Linked DNA regions of Homo sapiens. The protein of the gene in region 7 purifies or fractionates together with the protein of the main gene of each other region. This does not show direct contact. Each region holds a gene or a part of one and is shown on either strand. Other genes may lie near its edges.

Region 1 (3,500 bases), on a different chromosome or scaffold from region 7:
CAGATGACCATTCTGAATTGTGTTTCATTTTCTCTGTGAAGGTGAGCTTTCCACTGGAAAAGAGAGAGCGGGCAGAGTTGCATCGTCCCCAGGCCCTTGTCTTCTCTGCGTCAGGCATGATTGCCACCAATACACGTCATGCTCCACATTGTAGTTGTTCAGACCTCCAGAGTCTCTTCCGGGGTTTTGCTGCTGCTGAGTTCTTTCATTCCAATTATGATCACTTTCCTAAGGTTCCAGGTGGCTTTAGCCTTCTGCACATGCTTTTTTTGCATCATGCCTTTCAGATGGATTCCTGCCTGCCTCAGCCTAATACCCTCCCTCCCCAGAGACCTAAGGCTTCCTGGGATCTCTGGTCTGTCCACTTTACCCAGATCTCCTTGGACTTTGAGGGAACAGAAAACTTCAAAGGCCATACCTTGAATTTTGTAGCCCCCTTCCCCCTGTCCATTTGGGCCTGCCTACCCCTCCGCTGGCAGCAAGCCCAGGCACGGAAGCTTCTTTTGGCCTCAGAGGGGAGGCTGAAACCATCAGCCAGTTTTGGAAGTCCTGTCCAGTCTGAGGCTCTTGCCCCTGACTCTATGTCCCATCCGCGGTCAAAGACTGAACATGACTTGAAAAGCTTATCAGGACTTACAGAAGTCATGGAAATTCTGAAAGAAGGCAGTAGTGGTATGGACAACAAAGGGCCTCTGACAGAGCTGGAGGATGTAGCAGATGTTCATATGCTTGTACATTCCCCGGCCCATGTCCGCGTGAGGCTTGACCACTACCAGTACTTGGCTCTGCTTCGCCTGAAGGAGGTGCTGCAGAGGCTTCAGGAGCAGCTGACTAAGGATACAGAGTCAATGACTGGGTCTCCCCTGCAGAATCAGACAGCTTGCATTGGAGTTCTCTTTCCCAGTGCTGAAGTGGCTCTGCTTATGCATCCTGCACCCGGTGCTGTCGATGCTGACTCTGCAGGCTCAGATAGCACTAGCCTCGTAGATTCAGAGCTATCTCCTTCAGAGGATCGGGAACTGAAGTCTGATGCCTCATCAGACCAGGGCCCAGCAAGCCCTGAGAAGGTCTTGGAGGAAAGTAGCATTGAAAATCAGGATGTATCCCAGGAGAGGCCACATAGCAATGGAGAACTGCAGGACTCAGGTCCACTTGCCCAGCAGCTGGCAGGGAAGGGCCATGAGGCAGTAGAGTCCCTACAGGCCAAGAAACTGAGCAGAACCCAAGCCTCCAGCTCACCAGCTGCATTGAAGCCCCCAGCTGGCAGGGAGACTGCTGTGAATGGACAGGGTGAGCTCATCCCCTTGAAGAACATTGAGGGAGAATTGTCAAGTGCTATTCACATGACCAAGGATGCCACCAAGGAGGCTCTACATGCCACCATGGACCTCACCAAGGAAGCTGTGTCCCTGACTAAGGATGCCTTCAGTTTGGGCAGAGATCGAATGACCTCCACCATGCACAAGATGTTGTCCCTGCCCCCAGCCAAGTAAGTGGCTCTGTACCTCCTTCACTCATCCCATCTCCTTCTCCTAGTTCTGATCATTGGGTTTAAGGCCTCTTACTATGTGCATTTCTAGATTGGGAAGTACCATATAGTCCAGGAGAATGCATAGAATGGCCTATTTAATGGGCAGTTTTCAAGCCAATATTTATTGCTTCTTAGAATCAGATTATCTCCTTTTTCACTGATTCACTATTTTTTCCCCTCAAGACAGGCCTTACCGTGTTAGCCAGGCTGGTCTTGAACTGCTGGGCTCTGCAATCCTCCTGCCTTGGCTTCCTGAGTAGCTGGGATTATAGACACCTGCCACTGTACCCAGCTTGCTTCACAATTATTGATACAAATATGCTATATCAGAATAATAATAATGGCATATATATAATATTATTTTCAGTGGGCTTTCATCTAATTTTTTTGTTTGATTTGATCCCCACAGCAGCCTGGTAAGGTGGCCTCAGACATTTGTACCCCCAGTTTATAGCTGAGAAAACTGAGGCTTTAGAGAGGATGAGCTCATAGATATCCTATATCTTGTAAATAGAAAAGTTGTGGCTTTGGACTTGTTTTTTCTGGTACCTTATCAGTGTCTGTCAGAGTAATAGAGAAGGAAGAATTTCATCCATTCAGCAAGTATCTTGTGAGCGCTTTCTGTGTGCTGGGCTCTGTGTTAAGCGCCAGAGATAGAGTAGGGAGTAAACAGGAAAACACAGAAATGCACAGTGAGACGAGTGGAAAAGTATCGATTTTCCCATGGGTGCCTCATGGTTTTAGGAAAGATAGAGTCTAAGGGAAGTCTTTCCTGGAACACTTTGTGGTTTAGAGACCATGGTATAAAAACAGTGCATTTAGAGCTTTTGTCTAAGTGAATTATCTTAAGTGGGTCTCTAATGCCTGTGGGTGAGCTAGTACCTGCTAGGACAGACAGCAAGGAGGAAGGAGAGGAAAACTTCAAGGGTCGAGTTGTATAATAATACTAGCCAACATTTACTGAGTGCCTTCTTTGCCTGACAAGACACAGTCCTAAGTACTTATAATATTGGTCCACTGGATTTTTATAATAGCCCTATAAGGCAAGTATTAATATCAATCCCCATCTCACAGATGAGGAAACTGAGGCTCAGAGAGGTAAGAAACTTGCACAAGATCACACAACTTGTGAGTGGTGGGGCAAGGATTAAAAGCCTGGACTTCTAATCACCCAATGTGCTGCCTTTTCTAAATGGAGACAAGTAAGGGAGATGGAAAAAGAGCAGAGGTGAAAAAGAGAAAAGAAAGGTGTGTGAAATGAGCCCTTTTAAAACATCAACAGTGACTTCCTAACTGCCCAAGCCCGTGGCCTTTCCTCAGTCCCCCTTCTCCTGGACTCCTCTATGGTAGTTAACATTGCTGATCAGTTCATTCTGAATATTTGTAACCCCACCCAGTTACTCTCAATTCTCTGAAGGAGTCTTCTTTTTCCTTGGCTGCTCTCTTCTTCCTTTTATCCTATAGGTGTAAATACTCCACAGGGCTAGGCTGTCCATATTCTGATCACTTTTGTCATAATTTTAATTTTTAATTTTTTTTTTTTGAGACAGGTCTCATTCTGTTGCCCAGTGGTGCGATCTCTGCTCACTGCAGCCTCGACCTCCCAGGTTCAAGTGATCCTCCTGCCTCAGCCTCCTGAGTAGCTGGGACCACAGGCATGCGCCACCACGCCCAGCTAATTTTTGTATTTTTGGTAGAGATGGGGTTTTGCCATGTTGCCCAGGCTAGTCTCAAACTCTTGGGCTCAAGCGATTCACCCACCTCAGCCTCCCAAAATGCTGGGATTACAGGTGTGAGCCACTGTGCCTGGCCTATAATTTTAATTTTTTAAATTATAAAAATGGTTTGTGTTTATCGTGTTGACAGTGTAGGAAATAAGAGAGTAAAGAAGAAAATATAAAAATCACTTGTAACAATCCACAGATAACCACTGTTTACATTTGGGTGTATTTTCTTCCAATCTTTGTAT
Region 2 (3,500 bases), on a different chromosome or scaffold from region 7:
CCCCTTCCTCCAAGAAAACTTTGTAGACATTTTTTCCTAATCATCATTCCCCATTAAGTTGTAATGCCAGCAATAAACTGGATATCCATATGCTACATGTATATCTGTGCTTTATACATAAAAATAATAAGGGTTTGTTGTTCTTGTTGTTTGTTTGAGACACAGTCTCACTCTCACCTAGGCTAGAGTGCAGTGGTGTGATCTCGACTCACTGCAGCCTTCACTTCCTGGGCTCAAATGATCCTGCCACTTCAGCCCCCTGAGTATCTGGGACTACAGGCATGCACCACCATACCTGGCTAATTTTTTATTATTATTTGTAGAGACATGGTCTCACTATATTGCCCAGGGTGATCTTGAACTAGGCTCAAGCAATCTGCCCACCTCAGCTTCCCAAAGTGCTGGGTTTACAGGCTTGAGCCACTGTATCCAACCAGAATAATGTTTTTTTCCCCCCTTGAGGATGCGCTTAAATCTATACAAGGGACTCGTGTTATATGCTAAGCTGCAATTTGCTTTGTTTACTCAACACTATATGATGGGCATCTTCCCCTGTCAGTATATGTAGAGCTAACAGAAATTTTTAATGGCCATGTAAAATTCTGTATGGATCACTGTAATCTATTAACCAATTCCCTATTGGGTTTTTAGATTATTCCAGTTTTATCATAGGAAATGGTTCTATAATGAATATCCTTATAGATAACTCTTAATTCTTTCTTAGGAATAAATGCCTGCAAGTAGTATTGATGGTTCAAGAGTTGGAAGTTTTAGCTGAGTGTAATAGCATGCTTCTGTATTCCCAGCTACTCAGGAGGCTGAGGCTGGAGGATCGCTTGAGCCCAGAAGTCTAGCCAGGGGAACATAGCGAGACCCCATCTCATAAATAAATAACTGTAGCAAGATCATGTCTCATAAGTAAATGAATGAAAGAGAGTGGGAGTTGGAAGTGTTAAGGCTTTTGACATTTAACACCAAGTCAGTCTTCTGGGAAGGTACTACTTGAATACCTGTCCACCTTTAATCTCTCAATACCCATTTTCCCATTCCCTCATTAAAACTAGGCAGCAGCCTTTATTCAAATCTTTGCTAGTCTGATAGGAGAAAGCTCCTACTCTAATGATGAGTAATAAGGTCATTTAGATTTCTTTATCATTTGCATCTATTGGTACATTGCTTATCCATGTTGTTTTCATTTTGGAGGAAGGTTTTCATATTTCCTTAATGAATTATGAGAACTTTTATATGTGGGGGATATTAATCTTTATTATATGTTTTTAAAATTTTTATTTTATTTTTTTGAGTTGGAGTCTCGCTCTGTTGCCCAGGCTGGAGTGCAGTGGCGCAATCTTGGCTCACTGCAAGCTCTGCCTCCCAGGTTCATGCCATTCTCCTGCCTTAGCCTCTTGAGTAGCTGGGACTACAGGTGCCCACCACCACGCCTGGCTAATTTTTTGTATTTTTAGTAGAGACGGGGTTTCACCGTGTTAGCCAGGATGATCTCGATCTCCTGACCTCGTGATTCGCCCGCCTCAGCCTCCCAAAGTGCTGGGATTACAGGCGTGAGCCACCGTGCCTGGCCAAAAAATTTTATTTTTATGTTTTGCTTTTAAATGTAATTTACCTTTTTTTTAGGTGAAAAAAGTTTATTTCGTAATACCTATACTTTGTTACCCGTTTATCCTGCAATAGTTGCAATAGTATTCTTTTTTTTACTTTTTTTTTTTGGTCACCCAGGCTGGAGTGCAGTGCCGCGATCTCGGCTCACTGCAACCTTTACCTCCCAGGTTCAAGCGATTCTCCTGTCTTAGCCTCCCAAGAAGCTGGGATTAGCAGAGATGAGGTTTCACTATGTTGGCCAAGTTGGTCTGGAACTCCTTACCTGAACTGATCTGCCCACCTTGGCCTCCCAAAGTGTTGGGATTACAGGCGTGAGCCATTCATCGCACCTGGCTTACAATAGTATTCTTAGAAATATCTTTCTTACCCAAGCTAGTATAATTACCTGTATTAGTTTTGGTTTTTTTACAGCTTAACTTTTGATCATTTTTCATTTTAAACCACCCATACCAACTCTGAAGAACAAGGAACAAGGTTGTAGAATTGCTGTGATGGCTTCTCCATAGCTCCTATTTTGTCATATCCTTCCCTCCCCCACATCCCTCATCTCTCTATTAAATAGAAGAATTTGAATTTCCAAGAGATAATTACATTTCTAATTTTTGATAAGAGTTAGCTTTTGTTTTGTCCTCTCCCTTTTTATTTTTTGAGATACGGTCTCACTATGTTCCCCAGATTGGAGTGCAATGGTGCCATCATGGCTTACTGCAGCCTTGACCTCCTCGGCTCAGTGGATCCTCCTGCCTCAGCCTCTGGAGTAGCTGGGACTACAGGTGGGTGCCACCACACCCAGCTGATGTTTGTTTCTGATCCTAGGAATCGGATGCACAAGGACATCAAGTGGCTGCCAGGTTCTCCCACGTTCTGCAGAAGGATGCCTTCCTTGTGTTCCGCTCCCTGTGCAAGCTGTCCATGAAACCCCTTGGTGAAGGCCCTCCAGACCCAAAGTAAGCAGACAGCAGTTCTTGGCCACCTTCAGTCCAATGATCCAGCAGCACATGGTACTGTGTTTCACACTTCCCTTGTTCCAAGAAGTTTCAGTGTCATGTCTCTTTGTCAGTGTAAGTGCAGGAACGGTTTTACAACTTTTCAGACTCATGCAGTCTCTAGAGTCCTTTCATATGGAATTGTCTCTGTATCCCCACCAACCAAGATTTTGCCCAGTTTTGCTTTTCTTGGCATATGAATGCTAAAAAAGTCTGTTTATTGAACACATAAAAAACACATTTTTACTAGCTAGTGGATTGAATCTCTTGATGTGGGGTGTGGAGGGACAGGATGCCTGCAAACCTCAGTTCCCTGTTCTGTTGGAAACCTCTGCTTCATCGATACAGATGTAAGCCCCAGATTCGACACAGGGAAGCCAAACATTTCTTTGTAGTAAACAAACTACTACAAGGATGTCAGCGCTGTGGAGTGAAGAAAGCAGAGGCTTCAGAGCCAGAGAGAGCTGCATTTAGATCTTGGATCCTCCACTTGAGAGCAGTTCCTTGGCTATATGACTTGCCAAGCCTCATCTGAAAAATGGGAATATGGAAAATCATCTTACAGGATTGATTAAATGAAATATCGGTGTTGTCCTGAGCATGGGGCCTTGTACTTTATAAATTATCTCTATTGTTCCTGTCATTAGTCATTAATAATAATCCTCAATTCATCTATTACTAATGCTGCTAATACTGTGATAGGTATTAGGAAAATAGGCTGGGTGCGGTGGCTCACACCTATAATCCCAGCACTCTGGGAGGCCAAGGCGGGTGGATCACTTGAGGCCAGGAGTTCGAGACCAGCCTGGCCAACAAGATGAAACCCCACTTCTACTAAAAATACAAAAATTAGCTGGGTATGCTAGTACATGCCTGTAATCCCAGCCACTCGGG
Region 3 (3,500 bases), on a different chromosome or scaffold from region 7:
GTGAGCCAGAATTCAAGCTCCGTAGTGCCATAAAATGATGCCTGTTTCAAGGTTTAAATTTAACTGCTGTAAAAGTATTAAGAGTGTATGTGCTACATACAAAAAAATGTGAGAATGTTTCAAGCATTTACTAAGTGTCTACCATGTGTTGAGTACGTTATGCACATTAAGTCACTTAGTGTTCTAATTAACCCTGTGATAAATATGCAAGTGTTTTTTACACACGTATGATGTGTTCTACAGCATTATTTATATCAGTGACAGATTTTAACACCAGGAAAATAAATTGTAATAAACCCCTTCTCTAGAAATTAAGAGTGTCATGTGTGTTTGTATTGTGTGTGTATAATTGTTTGTTGAGACATGGTCTCACTCTGTTGCTCAGGATGGAGTGCAGTGGCGCGATCATGGCTCACTGCAACCTCTACCTCCAAAGCTCAAGCAATCCTCCCACCTTTCTACCTCCCTCGTAGCTGGGACTGCAGGCATGTGATTCCCAAGCCTGTCTAAATTTTGTTGCTGTAGTAGTACTTTTCGTAGAGATGAGGTTTCATCATGTTGCCTAGGTTATTTGTATTACTTCTACTGTATATAAAGATAAGTAAATTGAAGCTCAGAGTTGTTAAGTGATTGATACAAGGTTACACACTAAGTGGCAAAGCCAGGATTCAAACCCAAATCTGTCTGACTGCTGTTAAGGACCAGGAGCATGAGTTTGGAATGTGGGCGGTGGTCGTCTTAACCTCCAGACTTACCTCCTGCACAGAAACCCCAGCTGCGAGGTCCACCAGGAGCCGGTGACATACACAGCTATTGACCCTGGCCTGCAAGATGCTCTTCACCAGTGTGTCAACAGCAGGTGCAGTCAGAGGCTGGAAAGTGGGTAAGCAGAATCTAGTAAAGAATTGAGGTTTTCCAGCTAATATTTATTATTCCTACTCTTCGTGTTTTAAAAAGGTATGTCAGTTTTTCAGATCTGAAACTGATTTCCATAAGCCTTTACCCACCAGATTAAATGTTGTCTCGTTCCCACTTATTACCCGTATTTAGCGTGTGTACCATATGTTAGTAGCCTCATCTGTGAATGGGAGTTTTTCTTGAAATAAAAGACTTGTGAGGGGCCATGGCATGAAGCAGCAGGGCAAGGGAGGAGGAACCCCTGAGGTCCAGAAGCAGAACCCAGTGGTCAAGGCTCTAGGTGTGATATTTTGAAGCTCATTTATTTTCCTTTCTTAGGAAACACATCTGCTTCATGATAGTTTTGAGAACTAAAAACTACATGTTCCCCGCTCTCTCCCCACTCCTCAGGTGGGATTAGGAGTTTGGGACTAGACATTATGGAAATAGTGGCTGTGGTAGACTAAGTAAAGGGGAGTTGGTTTTTAGCTTATTGTAGCTGTAGCTTGCCATTTTATTAAACAGTGTTTAGAGGGATAGCTTACTCTGCTTTGCGTGTGTATTTTAGCAAAGGAATTGTGGCATCAAACTGATTAATTTGGGATGTTATACAGTAGCCCCAAGTCAATTAAGTTTGGGAAATGCTGACACTGCATATATTCTCTTGAGACAGTCACAATGCATGTAATACACTAAAGGCTCTGAGAAATTGGCAGTGAGGAAACCTGTGGTGACTGGCCAAGTATTTCCAAACTTATTGGACTTTTTTTTTTATTTTTTTAAATGACCCCACACTTGGGGGATGTTAAGCCAGAGTCTAACAAACATTGGGGTCATTTCTGTTTGGTCTTGTAAGATGATTTTGAATAGCCCCATGATGTGTGGATGTCATTATTTAATTCACAGAGAGCAGTTTTATTTCTCTCCTTTCCAAGTTGTTAAGAGGCATAAAACAGTTATTTCCCTGGCAGTCTATTGCTATTCTCATTTTATAAGGAAAGGAAACTAAAGCTCAAGAAATTCACAGCACTAGTAAGTAATGGAGATCCTGAGAACTGTCTGATGCCCACACTTAAGTGCTGTCCCCTGCCCCACACTGCTTTATAGAAGACTAAGTATTGTTTTTCTGGCAGGGACTGTTTTGGGGTGCTGGATTGTGAATGGTGCATGGTGGACAGTGATGGAAAGACTCACCTGGACAAACCCTACTGTGCCCCCCAGAAAGAATGCTTCGGGGGGATTGTGGGAGCCAAAAGTCCCTACGTTGATGACATGGGAGCAATAGGTATGTTTGTTAGATGCCCCAACAATTTGATTCTTGAATATACAATTTCCTGCCTATATGCTAGGACATCTTAAAATAATCCTCTTCCCAACTTCCCTGATTCCTTTGCTGGTAGTCTTTAGTTACAAAACCAAGGCAGATAATTACCTTCAGAACTGGCTAAATATTCTATGCAGAGAGAGTGAGTGGCCATCTGTGCTGCCAAATTTTACAAGCCTGGAATTCATTCCCATAAAGCTTGTTCTGATAAATATAAGGACTGGTTTCTGCATGGCCAAACTCTGGAGTCTGTTTGGATATGCACGCCAGCTGTCAGAAGCACAGGGCCGTGTACGGAGTGACCACTGTATGTCTAGTGCCTGCTAAAACCTTCACTCACAACTTTTGCAAGGTAGAAGTCTTATAGCTACAAATCAGTATTTGGGGCCTTGGAGTCAACAGAAGCCAGAGCTACCCAGTGCATCTGGGACAGCTTAGGATGAAGCACAAGGACACCACAGGGTGGACAGCCCCTGGGATCAGTCTCCAAGACCTCAAAAATACTGCCAAGATTAGATTGCTTACCTGAGATTTTTTTTTTCAGTCTTTCCAGAATTAGCACCAAGGCCTAATTCTTAGATGGCAGTAGAGTCAAATATTTAAATCCTTAGTTAATACCTTGATTTTTAACATCACTTACATCAGCCTGTCTAGAAGAAAAGCTCATATGTGGGGAAGGATTTTGAGCTTGTATGTTACTGCTGAACTAGGTGAGGGTACATATGTGAAAGTGACTTGGCTCTGAGAAATCACTTTCTATGCTCACCTGCAGTTTCCTATCTGGAAAGCACAAATGGCCTTTTAAAGGAAACCCATAAGCTTCGAAACTTGATCCGGTTAGCGCATATTTATTGGACCTGGTGCCTTTTATTTCAGTGGTTACTCTGTACTAGGTGACTTTTCCTCTCTTCCAAGAGTAACTCATACCCCAGGGAGCTAGGACTCTGTTGGTGTTGGATGCTGCCTGTGTAAGCAATTCTTCTGGTCTGCTCACTCTTCCCAGCAGTCCTTGCCATTTGTGCTCCTGCTCTGCCTAGCAACCAACACTGGAGAACCAGGAATTAAATGTAGCCTCCGCTCCCACGTTCCCATGCGTCATGTTTGAGGAACTCAAAGCCTAACTAAGCATCTGTTTATCTTCCGCCAACCCCCTTCCCACTGTATTCCCTCCCATCTCACCATCCTTACTTTCTTCCCCACTTGGGAAATCTTAACAAGAAACATCTTCTTGCTCTTTCACTGAAGGTGATGAGGTGATCACATTAAACATGATTAAAAG
Region 4 (3,500 bases), on a different chromosome or scaffold from region 7:
AAGTTATAGAATTAAGAACTTGTTGACAATGAACAAATCTGGCCATGGTTGAAGAGGGAATCACTTACCTGTTTAATGACATAATGAATCTCCTCAGAATTGAGAACACTACATTTAATATCAATTGGTTTACATGGAGTAATTCCCTTATAGACAAGAGGTGTGTAGCATTTCATTGCAAATTTCAAGTCACTGACATGCCTCCTCTCTTCTAAAATATCTTCAAACTCATCCCACTTTTTGAGCTCCTTCTGTGGATAAGGCAAGAAAGTAATGAGCACATACTGTAAAATAAATCAGGACAGATTAAAGACTACATTGGTAAGGTTTCATCTTTGACAAAATATTACTCTATGACGTGAACAGGAGCAGAGTGTTCTGATGTTAGATTTTCATATAGTAAAAAAAAGAGATGTAAAGAAAATTAGGATCAATAAATTGATACTGAGTTATCATAATATTTTATTATATTTCTGATTGCTATCATTGTCAGTATCTCTTTGGGAAATTTAATGAAGACAGCAAAGATGAGACATTAAGCCCTAGAGTAATCTGATCAACTTCACATGGTTTCACCTGCCACACTGACAAACCTGTTCCATTTGCCTCTACTTAGCTTTAAAAATTACATTAAAACAAACATTTGAAACCCAAATTATATAAAATAAAACAAAACTATATGGGTGCAAATAAAAGGAAAAATCATTCAAGAAACAAGCGCTCCAATAAAAGGTACTGTTGAGCAGTATATGGCTGTGATAACTTTCTTTTCTTCTTTTCGAGACAAGAGCTTATTCTCTTGCTCAGGCTGGAGTACAGTGCCACCATTATATAGCTCACTACAGCCTTGAACTCCTAAAGCAATCCTCCCTCCTGCCTCAGCCTCTCGAGTAGCTAGGATTACAAGTGCATACCACCAAGCCCAGTTAATTCTTAATTTTTTTTGTAGAGACAGTCTTGGCTGGGCATGGTGGCTCATGCCTGTAATTCCAGCACTTTGGGAGGCTAATCTCAATCCTCCACACTTCAAGCAGGATTGCTTGAAGCCGGGCATTCAAGACCAGCCTGGGCAACATAGCAAGACCCCATCTCTACAAAATAAAATAATAATAATAATAATAATAATAATAAAGAGGTACAGTCTTGCTCTGTTGCCCAGGCTGGTCTCAAACTCCTGGCTCAAGCAATCCTCCCACCTTGGTCTCCCAAAGTGCTGGGATTACAGGTGTGAGCTATTGTGCCTGGCCTGTGACAAATTTTTTATTTCTTATTCAGCCCCTGCCATTCAGCTTCTATCCAACCAGCCCCTGAAACTGCTCTTTACACGTCTACCAATGACTTCTGATTTGTTAATTTTTTAAAAAGTACTTTTCTGATTACAAAAGTAGTAGTAATGATAATAATTAAAGCTAACACGTATAACTGCTTACAAAGAGTCAGGACACTTGTCATATGTGCTGACACTAAAGTGTTAGGCGCATTCTAAATGCTTTAGAGGCTTAGGCACCACTCCTCTATGAAAGCTCTCCCAGAGTCCCGAATGGAATCATTCATATTTTCCCTGTCACTTCTTTTCCCACTAACTACACCTATTATGGTATGTATCCCACAACACTGTAATTGTATGCATGTCTGTCTCCCTACTAAAATGAAATTATCTCGAAGGTAGGAAAGTTCATTTTCTCTTTGTATTTCCAACATCTGGTTTTATTTGGAATATAGCATAATTGGTCAATAACTGAACTCAATAACTGAAAGATGAAATGTTGAGGTAATAGAAGAAAATACAGAATGTTAACTGAGACCACAATTTGGCATAAGAATATAAGTGGCAGCAAATAGCATTTATGAGGAGTTTATAAAAGGGTGGCAGGTGAAACATACAAACATGAACATTTTTATGTCCATATATAGAGAGACTATATGAAGGAAAGGTCTTTTCACTGTTGGAGTTCTCATGTAAAGTTGCAACCCTTGTAATAAATACTCTTGCTTATAAGGCTGGAAAACCTTCTCAAATCCCACATTTCTCATTAATAAATATATAGTTGTATCAGTTTGCGCTCTATAGACTGCAGCCAACTACCATTATATCATTTTAGGGCTTAAAAACAAGAACTTCCCATTTAGTGGTCCTGGGAGTGGAAGGAGAAAAGGATCAGAATCAGCTGGGGATATATGTATACACATATACAGTCATGCACTGTTTAACAACAGAGATACACTCTGAGAAATGCATTGGTAGGCAATTTCATCATTGTACAAACATCACAGAGTGTGTTTACACAAACTCAGATGGTATAGCCTACTACATACCTAGGCTATATATAGTATAGTGGTTAGCCTATTGCTCCTAGGCTACAAACCTGTACAGCATGTTACTGTACTGAATGCTATAAGTGATTGTAACACAATGGTACAAATTTACACATATAAACACAAAAAAGATACAGCAAAAATACGATATTATAATCTTATGGGACCACCATCATATACTGACTAAAACGTTGTTATGCATCATGTGACTCTGTGTGTGTTTGTGTGTGTGTTTATACGTATATATAGCTGACCCTTAAACAACACACATTTGAACTGCACAGGTCTACTTACATGAGGATTTTTACATTTAAGTTTTTTTTTTTTTCAATAGAGACGGGGGTCTTGCTATGTTGCCCAAGCTGGTCTGAAACTCCTGAGCTCAAATTATCTTCCCACCTTGGCCTCCCAAAGCGCTGGATTACAGGCGTGAACCACCACGCCTGGCCTATATGAGGATTTTCTGCTTCTGCCACTCCTGAGAGGGCAAATCCAACCCCTCCTCTTCCTCCTCCTCCTCAGCCTACTCGATGTGAAGTGATGAGGATGAAGTGGATTAATGACGATCCACTCCCACTTGATGAATAGTAAATATATTTTCTCTTATGATTTTCTTAGTAACATTTTCTTTTCTCTAGCATACTTTATTAAGAATACAGTACATAATACACATAACATATAAAATAAGCCTTAATGAATTGCTTATGTTATCAGCTAGGTCAACAGTAGGTTACTACTAATGAAACTTTTGGAGAGTCAAGAGTTATTGTGAATTTTCGACTGTGCAGAGGGTTGGTGCCCCCAACTCCCACGTTGTTCAAAGGTCAACTGTACATATATAAACACAGACATGTATGGGAGCGAGGGAGTCTTCAGGATAAGAACCCCTAAGGGAAACTAGCAGGCATGTATACTTTGAAAAAGCTTGCCAAATACGATCATCTACAATCCTTCCGTGGTTCTGTTACTTGCAAGGTGGACTTACATCAAGTCCACCTGTCTTAGCATATGACCCCAGGCTCTTCATGACCCCCCACCTCCTGCCTCATGACCATTCCTCTTAATCCAATAGTCCAGCTATGCCAAGACCTGCAGTTCCCTAAACACACTACGTGTTCCCAGATCTCTGATTCAAGTTGCTCCCTCTACAGAATAGCATTCATTCTCAAATATCTGAATGCCTA
Region 5 (3,500 bases), on a different chromosome or scaffold from region 7:
TGAGCTATGATAGTGCCACTGCACTCTAGCCTGGGTGACAGAGTGAGACCCTGTCTCAAAAAGAAAAAGAGAAACCAAAAAGAAGGCAATCCAGGCCAGGTGCAGTGGCTTACGCCTCTAATCCCAACACTTTGGGAGGCCGAGGTGGGCAGATCACCTGAGGTCGGTAGTTCGAGACCAGCCTGACCAGCATGGAGAAACCCTGTCGCTACTAAAAATACAAAATTAGCCAGGCGTGGTGGCGCACACCTGTAATCCCAGCTACTCGGGAGGCCGAGGCAGGAGAATCACTTGAACCCGGGAGGCGGAGGTTGCAGTGAGCCGAGATCACGCCATTGCGCTCTAGCCTGAGAACAAGAGTGAGACTCCATCTCAAAAAAAAAAAAAAAAGAAGGCAATTGGCGGCCCCCGGCCAGCTGGGTGGGTGGCTGCAGGAATCTGGGGTCCCCAGCACCCTCTGTGACTCCCACCCTGTGGACCTCCTAGTGTGCAAGATGACCTGCCACAAGAAGTGCGTGCACAAGATTCAGAGCCACTGCTCCTACACCTACGGGAGGAAGGTGAGTGTACGAGGCCTGGAACTTTCTACAATGACACTCCACTCACGGCCAGGTGCACCAGGAGGTGGTGCTTGATGTGAGGGCCAAGCGAAGCATTGAGCAGCCAGTAGGGGGCGGCTGTGGCCTCTGGTTCTGCAGAACACACCATTGTCCCCGGTTCTGTACAAACTCCTTGAGGCCCTCAGGCAGGGCCCAGGCCTGTGTGTGTGTCTCAGCTCCCCCAGCCCTGCTCATCCTTGCTCCTGAGAGAGTCCTGAGCCATGCAGAGGGAGGCCCCCCAACTCTGTGCATAAGGTTGGGGTCCTGGGTGCTGGGGGTGCAGCAAGAGTCAGGGTCTACTTCTGTGAGGTGGCTGTGGGGGCTAGGTTATAGCTCTCTCCCCACGAAGGACCACCCATGCCTTGGGTGGCCTACAAAGGAAGCCCCTGCCCAGTGGCTGCCATGCTGGCCTTGACTTCTGCAGCCCCACACCCCCAACAACCACGCAGAAGGAGACAGGGAGGGACAGAACAGCAGAGGAAGCCCTGAGGGCCTTGTGCGGGACCAGGAGGCAGAGGCCCCCAGAGACAGCTGGAGAGGAAGACAGCCAGGCCCAGACCTGACCCCCAACCCCGGCACTGCAGGGCGAGCCAGGCGTTGAGCCTGGCCACTTCGGCGTGTGCGTAGACAGCCTGACCAGCGACAAGGCCTCGGTGCCCATCGTGCTGGAGAAGCTCCTGGAACACGTGGAGATGCACGGCCTGTACACCGAGGGCCTCTACCGCAAGTCGGGTGCTGCCAACCGCACTCGGGAGCTCCGGCAGGCGCTGCAGACAGGTGGGCGCTGTGGGCAGGTGGGTGCAGTGCCAGGCCCCAGGCACAGCCGTCCTGCCAGTGCGCCGCTCACCAGACCCACCCCACCCACCCCACAGACCCCGCAGCAGTCAAGCTGGAGAACTTCCCCATCCACGCCATCACAGGGGTGCTGAAGCAGTGGCTGCGGGAGCTGCCCGAGCCCCTCATGACCTTCGCACAGTACGGCGACTTCCTCCGAGCCGTCGGTGAGCCCCATGGCGGTGCGGGTGGCAGCAGGTGGCCACAGCCAGGATACAGCGTTCGCTGTGACCAGCCCAGGAGGCAGGACCACCCAGTTCACAAACTGAGAAACTGAGGCCCAAAGCAGTCGGCCCAGCCAAACCGGGTCCCCAGTTTGGGGTGGGGCCAGGACACCTCTGTAGCCATCCATTCTTGCCTGGGCACCACAGGGTGGATGGCACCTGTGCATCTCAGGTCGTGTTGGTGGGGACAACAGGCACCTTGGGGACCCTTGGGAGCTGACGTCCTCAAACCCCACTGCCTGCAGAGCTGCCGGAGAAGCAGGAGCAGCTGGCTGCCATCTATGCCGTCCTGGAGCACCTTCCAGAAGCCAACCACAACTCCCTGGAGAGACTCATCTTCCACCTTGTCAAGCAAGTGCCTCCCCACCTGCCCTCTGTGGGGTTAGGGTCGCATTGGGAACCCGCGAGGCAGCATTTCCCAGGAGGACCCGAGCTGGCGTTCTGTGGTGGTTTCGAACCAGGATGCAGACCACTGTTGGGGGTTCTGGGAGGGGGCCAGGCTGCTGGGCCGCCCGGGTCCCTTGAGGTACCTCTCTGTGCTGCGGAAGCATCTCCCAGTGCTGGGCTGTGGCACTGCTTTCCCAACAGCCACCCCAGGGCTCAGAAGTTCAGTCTCGGGGCTCCCTGGTACCTCCCTCCCTCGGCCCTAGCCATCCTCTAACTGCCAGTGGCTGTGCAGGGTGGCCCTGCTCGAGGATGTCAACCGCATGTCACCTGGGGCGCTGGCCATTATCTTCGCACCCTGCCTCCTGCGCTGCCCTGACAACTCGGACCCGCTGACCAGCATGAAGGACGTCCTCAAGATCACCACGTGAGTGCCCACCCTGCCCCGGAGGCATGCTCAGGGCAGCCCCACCCAGGACCCCACGACAGCTCCATCCATCCCTGTGTAAATAAATGTGTAAGAAAAGTCCAGAGCCGAGTGCAGCGGTTCACACCTGTAATCCTAGCTACTTTGGGAGGCCAAGGCAAGAGGATCACTTGAGGCCAGGAGTTCGAGACCAGCCTGGGCAACATAGCAAGACCCTACAAAAAATTTGAAATTGGAAATTTGTATTTAAATATAAAAATTTAAATTTCCAAATTTAAATTTTTAAATTCAAATTTTTATTTAAATATAAAAATTTAAATTTTTGTCTCTACAAAAAATTTAAAAATTAGGCCAGGCGTGGTGGCTCACACCTGTAATCCCAGCACTTTGGGAGGGCGAGGTGGGTGGATCACTTGAAGCCAGGAGTTTGAGACCAGCCTGACCAACATGGTGAGACCCCATCTCTATTAAAAATACAAAAATTAGGCTGGACGAGGTGGCTCACGCCTGTAATCCAGCACTTTGGGAGACCGAGACGGGCAGATGACCTGCGGTCGGGAGTTCGAGACGAGCCTGACCAACATGGAGAAATCCTGTCTCTACTAAAAATGCAAAATTAGCCGGGCGTGGTGGCGCATGCCTGTAATCCCAGCTACTTGGGAGGCTGAGGCAGGAGAATCACTTGAATCCAGGAGGCGGAGGTTGCAGTGAGCTGAGATCATGCCATTGCACTCCAGCCTGGGCAACAAAAGCGAAACTCTATCTCAAAAAAAAAAAACAAAATACAAAAATTAGCCAGGCCTGGTGGCATGTGCCTATAATGCCAGCTACTGGGAGGTGGAGGCTACATTGAGCTGAGATCGCACCACTGCACTCCAGCTGGGCAACAGAGTGAGACTCCGTCTCAAAAAGAAAATTTAAAAAAATAAAAAATATATATATAAACTAGCCAGGTGTGGTGGCAGGCGCCTGTAATCCCAGCTACTCGGGAGGCTGAGGCAGGATAATTGCTTGAACCCAGGAGGTGGAGGT
Region 6 (3,500 bases), on a different chromosome or scaffold from region 7:
GAGATAGAGTCTTACTGTATTGCCCAGGTTTGTCTAGAACTCCTCCTCAAGTGATCCTCCTGCCTCACCCTCTCAAAGTGCTGGGATTACAGGCATGAGCCCCTGTGCCTGGCCTTCTTTTACTTAAAAGAAAAATCGTTATAGCCATCCTAGTAGGTATGAAGTGGTATGTCCTTGTGGTTTTGATTTGCATTTCTCTAGTGACTAATGATGTTTAGCATCTTTTCGTGTGCTTATTGGCCATTTGTGTATCTTTTTTGAAGGAAATATCTTCAGGTCTTTTGGCCATTTTAAAATTGGATTGTTTGCCTTTTTTGTTGTAAGAGTTATTTATATATTCTTGACACTAGTCCCTTATCAGATATATGAGCGGCAAATGTTTTTTTCCTTTGTGTATGTTGACTCTTCACTTTCTGAGTGGTGTCTTTTGAGTCATAAAAGTTTTTAATTGTGATGAAGTCCAGTTGATCTTTTTTTTTTCTTTTGTCTTTTGTGCTTTGGGTGTCATATCAATTATTTTATTTTTAGTATAGCAAGTGAATTGGAAATTTGTATATGTTCCATTATTAGTCATTGATTTGAAAGAGTGACGTCTGTACTTCAGACTTGTATTTTTCTGTTACTTTTCAACTCCTGACCTATTTTGTTCACTCTAAGACATCACTCCCTTTGTATTTCCTTGGTGCCTAATGTCACTTGTGTTTCGTAGGGTGTGGTTCCAACTGCTCAGCGTGCTGCCATCGTTGTAGGAGTAGAGCTACCAGTCTATGATATTACTAAGAAGCATTTAATATTGTCAGGAATGATGGGCGATACAATTTTAACTCACTTCGTGTAAGTAGGATGGGATGTGCTCATTTTATTTCCAGCATTTTGAGCACAAAAAGCCTCTTTTACTGAAATCCTCAGGTGGAATTTGATAACTGGTACGTATGGCCTAAATTCCCTTGTCTCTCCTATTATCAGAACTTCAAGCCTTATGAACACTTTATACTTCACAGAAATGCCAGGTGCTATGGGGGCTTGGGTACTTGGGAACATTGTCTAATACAGCAGCCTATCAGAGGTCTATTTGATTTACATTTATCCATACATAGCTTCTATATCTAATAAGCACATCTATTATTTGCTTTGGTTAATTTTGTTTGAGAAAGCAAACTTTTCTCAGTGGGAATCAGAAAAAAAGGGGTAAATAAGGTCTGTGAAACTAAAGCACAGTTTTTTGGCTAAAGACTGTTACTGATCTCATTTTACATTTTCTTTGTCTTGCAACCTTTATGATAATTTTGTTACTCAAATGCATTTGGCATGTGATGCTGTGGTTTGAAAAATTTATGTAACTAATACATGGTGCATGATACTTTCTACTTAGGAATCTTGTTAGGTTTAGAAACTCTCCTTTAAAAAAAAGGCTGAGTTTCAGATTGAAAATTGAAGGGACAGCCTTTGAATGATGTCTCTTTAGAAAAATTTCCTGTCTCTTTAGATTGTAACGAAAGGCCAAGTGCCAGGTTTTATCTGATGGGTCTGAGTTATATTGTACAGTTTACGTTTGGCCTAATTTCTGTTTAAGTGGGCAGGGAGTGAAAGTGGGGTCGATCTACTTAAACTTTTCCTCTTAGTTCCAGCTTTACATGTGGTTTGGCTGGGGCTCTGGCCTCCAACCCGGTTGATGTGGTTCGAACTCGCATGATGAACCAGAGGGCAATCGTGGGACATGTGGATCTCTATAAGGGCACTGTTGATGGTATTTTAAAGGTAAGTACATTGTGGATTTGGGTTACAATTTGGCTTTCTTTGATGTCTTAGACCTTCCTTCAGTTCTTATTATTAGTTGCTACATACCATTTTGAAGATGAAAGAATCATATTTTTTTAGTAGCTTCTCAGTTATTCCCAGGTAGAAAAGCTGTCTCCTTAGCAATCTGCTAATTTGCAGTGGTACTTAATATAATGATTCCCATTTGAATGCTTTAAAATACAGGATGCTTTTATTAATAGTATCATGTAGAATTATTGATAGAAAAGACAATATATCCCCCATTTGCCTACTTCATACAACACAGAGACCCTGCAATAGAAAACTCAATACTTAAGGAAAAAAGCCTGTATTTTATTTCAGTTCACGGTTATGCTGTTGTTCACTTTGGCTTTGAAAGTTCCTGCTGTTGTGTTTGTGGGAACTGAATATTCTAAAAGTATTACATCATTACTGGTGATATTATTGCTACTGAAAACAAATTGAGGCTAAAATATGATGTTGCCATATGGTTTCTCTCCTGTTATCAGTTTTGTTTAACAACTATTACATATTAGACACCATTTTAGTAGTTAGAGAGAAATTACAGTTATTACAAAAGTACTATAGGTATACAAACGGATCATCAGTACAGCCTGATAAGTGATAAACTCAAGAGTTCTCAATTTGGAAGCATTGAGGTAGGCTCCCTGTAGATGGTGGCATCTTGAATAACAATAACTCATATCCACTGAGTGCTTTTTTGTGTGTCAGCAACTGTCCTTATGAGACTTATGTGTATTCGTTCATTGAATCCTCACCATTACTCCACGAGGTAGACACTGAAGCACTGAAAGATTAAGTAAGCTGCCTAAGGTTTCACAGCTACTAAGTGGGAGAACTGGAATTTAAACTCAGATCACTTGACCTCAAACTGACATTTACCTCTCCACTATGGTGCTTTCCTCATATTGGTGGCCAAGGGTTAGATTATAAAGGATACTGAATGCTATATTGAGGTGCTTGGACTTTTTTTTAACTTGTCAGGGAGCTGTTGAAAGTTTTTAATCAGATTAGCTTTGCATTTTAAATAGATTACTTTGGCTTTATGGAGACTGGATCTACCACAGTGGTTCCTCATCTTGGGTACACATTGGAATCACTTGGGAGAACTTTCGCAGCTCCCTCCTCTACCTTAGACCAATTAACTCAGAACCTGGGGAGTAAGGTCCAGGTGTCAATATTTTAAACTATATCAGGTGACTGCAATGTTCACCTAAGGTTGAAGACTACTAAGGGGATAAGCCTGGAGCCATGGTTCTTCAAAGTTTAACATGCATCAGAATTACCTGGAGGGCTTGTTAAACTGCAGTTCACTTGGAGCCATCTCCAGATTCTGATTTAGTAAGTATGGAGTGGGACCTGGAAATTTGCATTTTTAATAAATTCCCAGGCAATACTGATGTTGCTAGTCTGGAGACCACACTTGGAGAACCACTGACCTACAGATAGGGAAGCTGATTAGAAGGCTCTTGTAATCTGAGAAAGAGGGGATGAAGGCCTGAACTTGAGCATGATAATGGAGATATAGAAGGTGGGACAGAGTCAAGAAAGAATTAGTTGATAGAGTCAGCAGGATTTGATTGACTGGATGTGGAGGGGTGTGGGAGAAAAGAGGTGTCAAAGATAAGTTCTGGGTTTTTGGAGTTGGTGACCAGGTGGTGACATTCATTGACAGAGGCATCACAAGAGGAGCACGTCTT
Region 7 (3,407 bases):
AGACCTCCCCATCCTCCCGAACTCCTCCTCCTCATCTTCTCCCTTGCACCTTCCAACCAGCACGGTATTCCCTGGCTCCAATAGGCACTGTGAGCACTCACGTTCTCAACCTGTGCCCCAGTTTTCCAGAGCACTGGGGATATATCCCTCCTTGGGACTCTTGGGTATAGTAGCTTTTCTTATCATCTGCCCTAGCTCGAATGCTTTTTCCTGGAAACCATGAACCTCCTCCATGTATAAAGCACGCCCGTACCTTCTTATTCCTCTGCCCTTCCTCCCACATTCCCATCCCAGCTCTCCATGGAGGACACCACTTCCATTCTTCCGAAGCTTAAGCGAAACTCTAACGCCTATGGCATTGGGGCCCTGGCCAAGTCATCATTCTCAGGTGAGACTCCTGATGTAAGAATGCCTTCAGACAAAATAATGCTGACAGACTCCTTGGCTCAGTCTCCCTGCTCCTTCGAGGTTGATGAAGACCCTCATCCCCACCCCCTGACCTATTCACCCTTCTGTCAAGCCTCCCATCCTCCAGGCCATTCCCTCCACTACCCCATCTATGGAGTCCTTAGGGGAGCCTGGCCCAGTGGGATGGAGCCTCATGGGGCTGGGGTGGGAGGAACTGGGAGGGTCTGGTTATGGGTATTGTGTGATATTCTGGAGGATGTGGGAAATGTCTGGCCCCATAGGGATCTCACGGAGCATGAAGGACCATGTGACAAAGCCCACAGCCATGGGGCAAGGCCGGGTGGCCCACATGATTGAGTGGCAGGGCTGGGGGAAGACACCAGCTGTTCAGCCACAACACAGCCATGAGTCCGTGCGCAGGGATACGGATGCCTACTCCGACCTCAGCGATGGCGAGAAGGAGGCACGTTTTCTAGCAGGTACAGGTACCCTAAAGCCTCAAGAGACACATTTGCAGGATGGCCAGGGACCGACCCTCCAACCTGATCCCCTGTGGCAGGATTAGCTCCATCCATACTTTGACCGTAGATTCACATTTCCCAAACAGCTCTAAGTATTTTGATGTGGTAATTCAAATAAGTGCCCTCAAACATATTTTTATAATCATCTCAGAAAATGCGTGTAATTAGATGGGATTTGTGGGTCCACCCATCCCAGATGCCTTCTCTCCTCATCACGGGACTATCCAAACCTGAACTCCCTCAAGTGCAGGGAAAAAAATGGGGAGACCTTGGTCTTTGAAAGAAAGAAAGGCCTTGGGGATCTCTTTTAGCCTTTGCCCTTTAGCATTTCGAGTCATGAATTTGCCTACTAGACTCATTACTTGTGACAACCACTAGAAGATTAAGGGAACTGTGTGAGAGACGGGAGGCCTACAGAAGAGGTTTAGTTCCAGGAAAGTAGTGTAGGTCTGATAACAGGCATGCAGTGTGCCTACAAGAGTGGCCAAGCTGTAGTGCAGGTCTAAATAAGATGCCTAGAAAGGGATAGGTCTGGAAGAGAAAGGAAGTATTGAGTTGGTGGTATGGGTGGGAGGAGAAATATCAGTGAACAGGGTGACAAACATGTAGGGTGGGGGGCAGGAGCAGTACCAGCTTCAACACGCTCATGGATTTGACTAGAATAGGGATCCCCAGGTCTACCCATCCCCTTTTCCTTCCAATCCCTTGAATTTCAGTTTTATATTATGGTGGACCCACAAGCCCACGATGCTCTCTTGGGGGTTCTCTGTTGATCTTGAAATCTACTCTCTAGACTGCAATTCCTAAAAACCTCCAAAGATAAATATCTGGAAATCTCGAATTTGAATCTCTTAGGATATCTCATCAGAAGACCCCTAACTCTTTCCCCTAGGAATCCTAAATCTGATTTTTTAGGAAGTCCCCTACAATTCTCCCTTCTCTGGGGACATACACAAAGGCTGTGCTGTCCAATACATTAGCCACTGGCCTCATGTGGTTATTGAGAACTTGAAATGTGGCTCTTCTGAATGGAGATGTGCTTATAAGTATAAAATACCAGCTGGATCTCAAAGGCTTCATATAAATAAAAGAATGTAAAATATCTCATTAATAACTTTTATTTTGATTATATGTTGAGATGAAAATCTTTTTATATATCGAATTAAATAAGATCTATTATTTCAATTGATTTAACCTGTTTCTTTTTAATTTTAAATGTGGCTACTGGAAAATTTAAAATGATATAAGTGGCTTGCATTATATTTCTACTGAACAGTGCTGCACTAAGATGTTTTCCTACCCCACGCACATGTCTAAGGATTCCCTGAGGTATTTTGTGGTTGTTGCATTTCTTCCCCCAGGCGTCATGGAGCAGTTTGCTATCTCTGAGGCCACACTCATGGCCTGGTCTTCCATGGATGGTGAGGACATGAGTGTGAACTCCACCCAGGAGCCATTGGGCTGCAACTACAGTGACAACTACCAGGAACTGATGGACAGTCAGGGTGAGAGATGTTCCAGAATCCAAACTCTGGAGCCTATGAGGCCTCCCCAACTATCTCAGCTGCCTCCACTCAGCTCCGTTCTTTTAAGACTTCCTTGTCCATCTCAGCTTTCCCATTGTCCTCCCTACTCACTGTGCACTCTGTGTCTTACTGCCAGTTCTCTGTGCTGTCTCTTAGCTGTCTCTTGTGCTGTCTGTGCTGTCATTCCTGCCCTTGACATTCTGTGGCCCCACTGACCTCCATGATTCTTTTTCCAGATGCCCTGGCTCAAGCACCCATGGATGGATGGCCTCACTCTTACGTGTCCCAGGGTATGTACTGTCTGGGGTCGTCAGATGCCTGGGAAGCCAGCGATCAGTCCCTCATTGCCTCTCCGGCCACAGGATCCTATCTTGGGCCTGCATTTGATGACTCACAACCCAGCTTGCATGAAATGGGACCTTCCCAACCAGCTTCAGGATACTCTGCTCTGGAGCCTCCACCTTTGCTGGGGGGAGACACTGACTGGGCTCCGGGGGTAGGCGCAGTGGACCTGGCAAGGGGCCCTGCTGAGGAGGAGAAGAGGCCATTGGCACCTGAGGAGGAAGAGGATGCGGGATGCCGGGACCTGGAGTCACTTTCCCCACGAGAAGACCCTGAGATGTCTACCGCTCTCAGCCGGAAGGTGTCTGACGTCACATCCTCAGGTGTGCAGTCCTTTGATGAGGAGGAAGGCGAGGCCAACAACTAGTTTCCTCCCCCAATGCCCTGCCTTCCACTCCCACCTGAGGGCCATGGCTGTGACCCATACCCTCCCTCCCCCCAGCAGTACAGCTGAAACTGGGCAGACAACATTGGGGAACCCAGGAGCTTCCAGTCCTCTCCTGGAAATGGAGGACCAGGATGGGATTTTATCCAGGCTTACACTCTAGAAACCCACAGGCCTGGGAACTGAGACCTGGGCAACTAGATGGCCGTGAGCTTGGTGTGGCTG

What was found.
Region 1: the proteins of FAM131B (region 7) and BLTP3A purify together in Homo sapiens (affinity purification with mass spectrometry; 2 studies listed by BioGRID and IntAct, with this or other methods). This does not show direct contact.
Region 2: the proteins of FAM131B (region 7) and ARFGEF2 purify together in Homo sapiens (affinity purification with mass spectrometry; 2 studies listed by BioGRID and IntAct, with this or other methods). This does not show direct contact.
Region 3: the proteins of FAM131B (region 7) and CACHD1 purify together in Homo sapiens (affinity purification with mass spectrometry; 2 studies listed by BioGRID and IntAct, with this or other methods). This does not show direct contact.
Region 4: the proteins of FAM131B (region 7) and GNPAT purify together in Homo sapiens (affinity purification with mass spectrometry; 2 studies listed by BioGRID and IntAct, with this or other methods). This does not show direct contact.
Region 5: the proteins of FAM131B (region 7) and MYO9B purify together in Homo sapiens (affinity purification with mass spectrometry; one large-scale study listed by BioGRID and IntAct). This does not show direct contact.
Region 6: the proteins of FAM131B (region 7) and SLC25A14 purify together in Homo sapiens (affinity purification with mass spectrometry; one large-scale study listed by BioGRID and IntAct). This does not show direct contact.

Annotation. Positions count from the first base shown.
Region 1 is NC_000006.12:34,858,083-34,861,582, forward strand, and holds part of BLTP3A (bridge-like lipid transfer protein family member 3A), read left to right. Parts: intron 1-41; coding exon 42-1,489; intron 1,490-3,500. UniProt on the Homo sapiens protein: Tube-forming lipid transport protein which probably mediates the transfer of lipids between membranes at organelle contact sites. May be involved in the retrograde traffic of vesicle clusters in the endocytic pathway to the Golgi complex.
Region 2 is NC_000020.11:48,966,711-48,970,210, forward strand, and holds part of ARFGEF2 (brefeldin A-inhibited guanine nucleotide-exchange protein 2), read left to right. Parts: intron 1-2,436; coding exon 2,437-2,567; intron 2,568-3,500. UniProt on the Homo sapiens protein: Promotes guanine-nucleotide exchange on ARF1 and ARF3 and to a lower extent on ARF5 and ARF6. Promotes the activation of ARF1/ARF5/ARF6 through replacement of GDP with GTP. Involved in the regulation of Golgi vesicular transport.
Region 3 is NC_000001.11:64,676,129-64,679,628, forward strand, and holds part of CACHD1 (VWFA and cache domain-containing protein 1 isoform 1 precursor), read left to right. Parts: intron 1-766; coding exon 767-883; intron 884-2,030; coding exon 2,031-2,182; intron 2,183-3,466; coding exon 3,467-3,500. UniProt on the Homo sapiens protein: May regulate voltage-dependent calcium channels.
Region 4 is NC_000001.11:231,247,712-231,251,211, reverse strand, and holds part of GNPAT (dihydroxyacetone phosphate acyltransferase), read right to left. Parts: intron 252-3,500; coding exon 69-251; intron 1-68. UniProt on the Homo sapiens protein: Dihydroxyacetonephosphate acyltransferase catalyzing the first step in the biosynthesis of plasmalogens, a subset of phospholipids that differ from other glycerolipids by having an alkyl chain attached through a vinyl ether linkage at the sn-1 position of the glycerol backbone, and which unique physical properties have an impact on various aspects of cell signaling and membrane biology.
Region 5 is NC_000019.10:17,204,777-17,208,276, forward strand, and holds part of MYO9B (unconventional myosin-IXb), read left to right. Parts: intron 1-486; coding exon 487-560; intron 561-1,183; coding exon 1,184-1,376; intron 1,377-1,471; coding exon 1,472-1,600; intron 1,601-1,902; coding exon 1,903-2,008; intron 2,009-2,336; coding exon 2,337-2,468; intron 2,469-3,500. UniProt on the Homo sapiens protein: Myosins are actin-based motor molecules with ATPase activity. Unconventional myosins serve in intracellular movements. Binds actin with high affinity both in the absence and presence of ATP and its mechanochemical activity is inhibited by calcium ions.
Region 6 is NC_000023.11:130,363,919-130,367,418, forward strand, and holds part of SLC25A14 (brain mitochondrial carrier protein 1 isoform 1 precursor), read left to right. Parts: intron 1-709; coding exon 710-834; exon of another isoform or gene 835-1,622; coding exon 1,623-1,758; intron 1,759-3,500. UniProt on the Homo sapiens protein: Transports inorganic anions (sulfate, sulfite, thiosulfate and phosphate) and, to a lesser extent, a variety of dicarboxylates (e.g. malonate, malate and citramalate) and, even more so, aspartate and glutamate and tricarboxylates.
Region 7 is NC_000007.14:143,356,307-143,359,713, reverse strand, and holds part of FAM131B (protein FAM131B), read left to right. Parts: exon of another isoform or gene 1-164; intron 165-195; exon of another isoform or gene 196-294; coding exon 295-388; intron 389-689; coding exon 690-887; intron 888-2,290; coding exon 2,291-2,434; intron 2,435-2,691; coding exon 2,692-3,164; 3' UTR 3,165-3,407.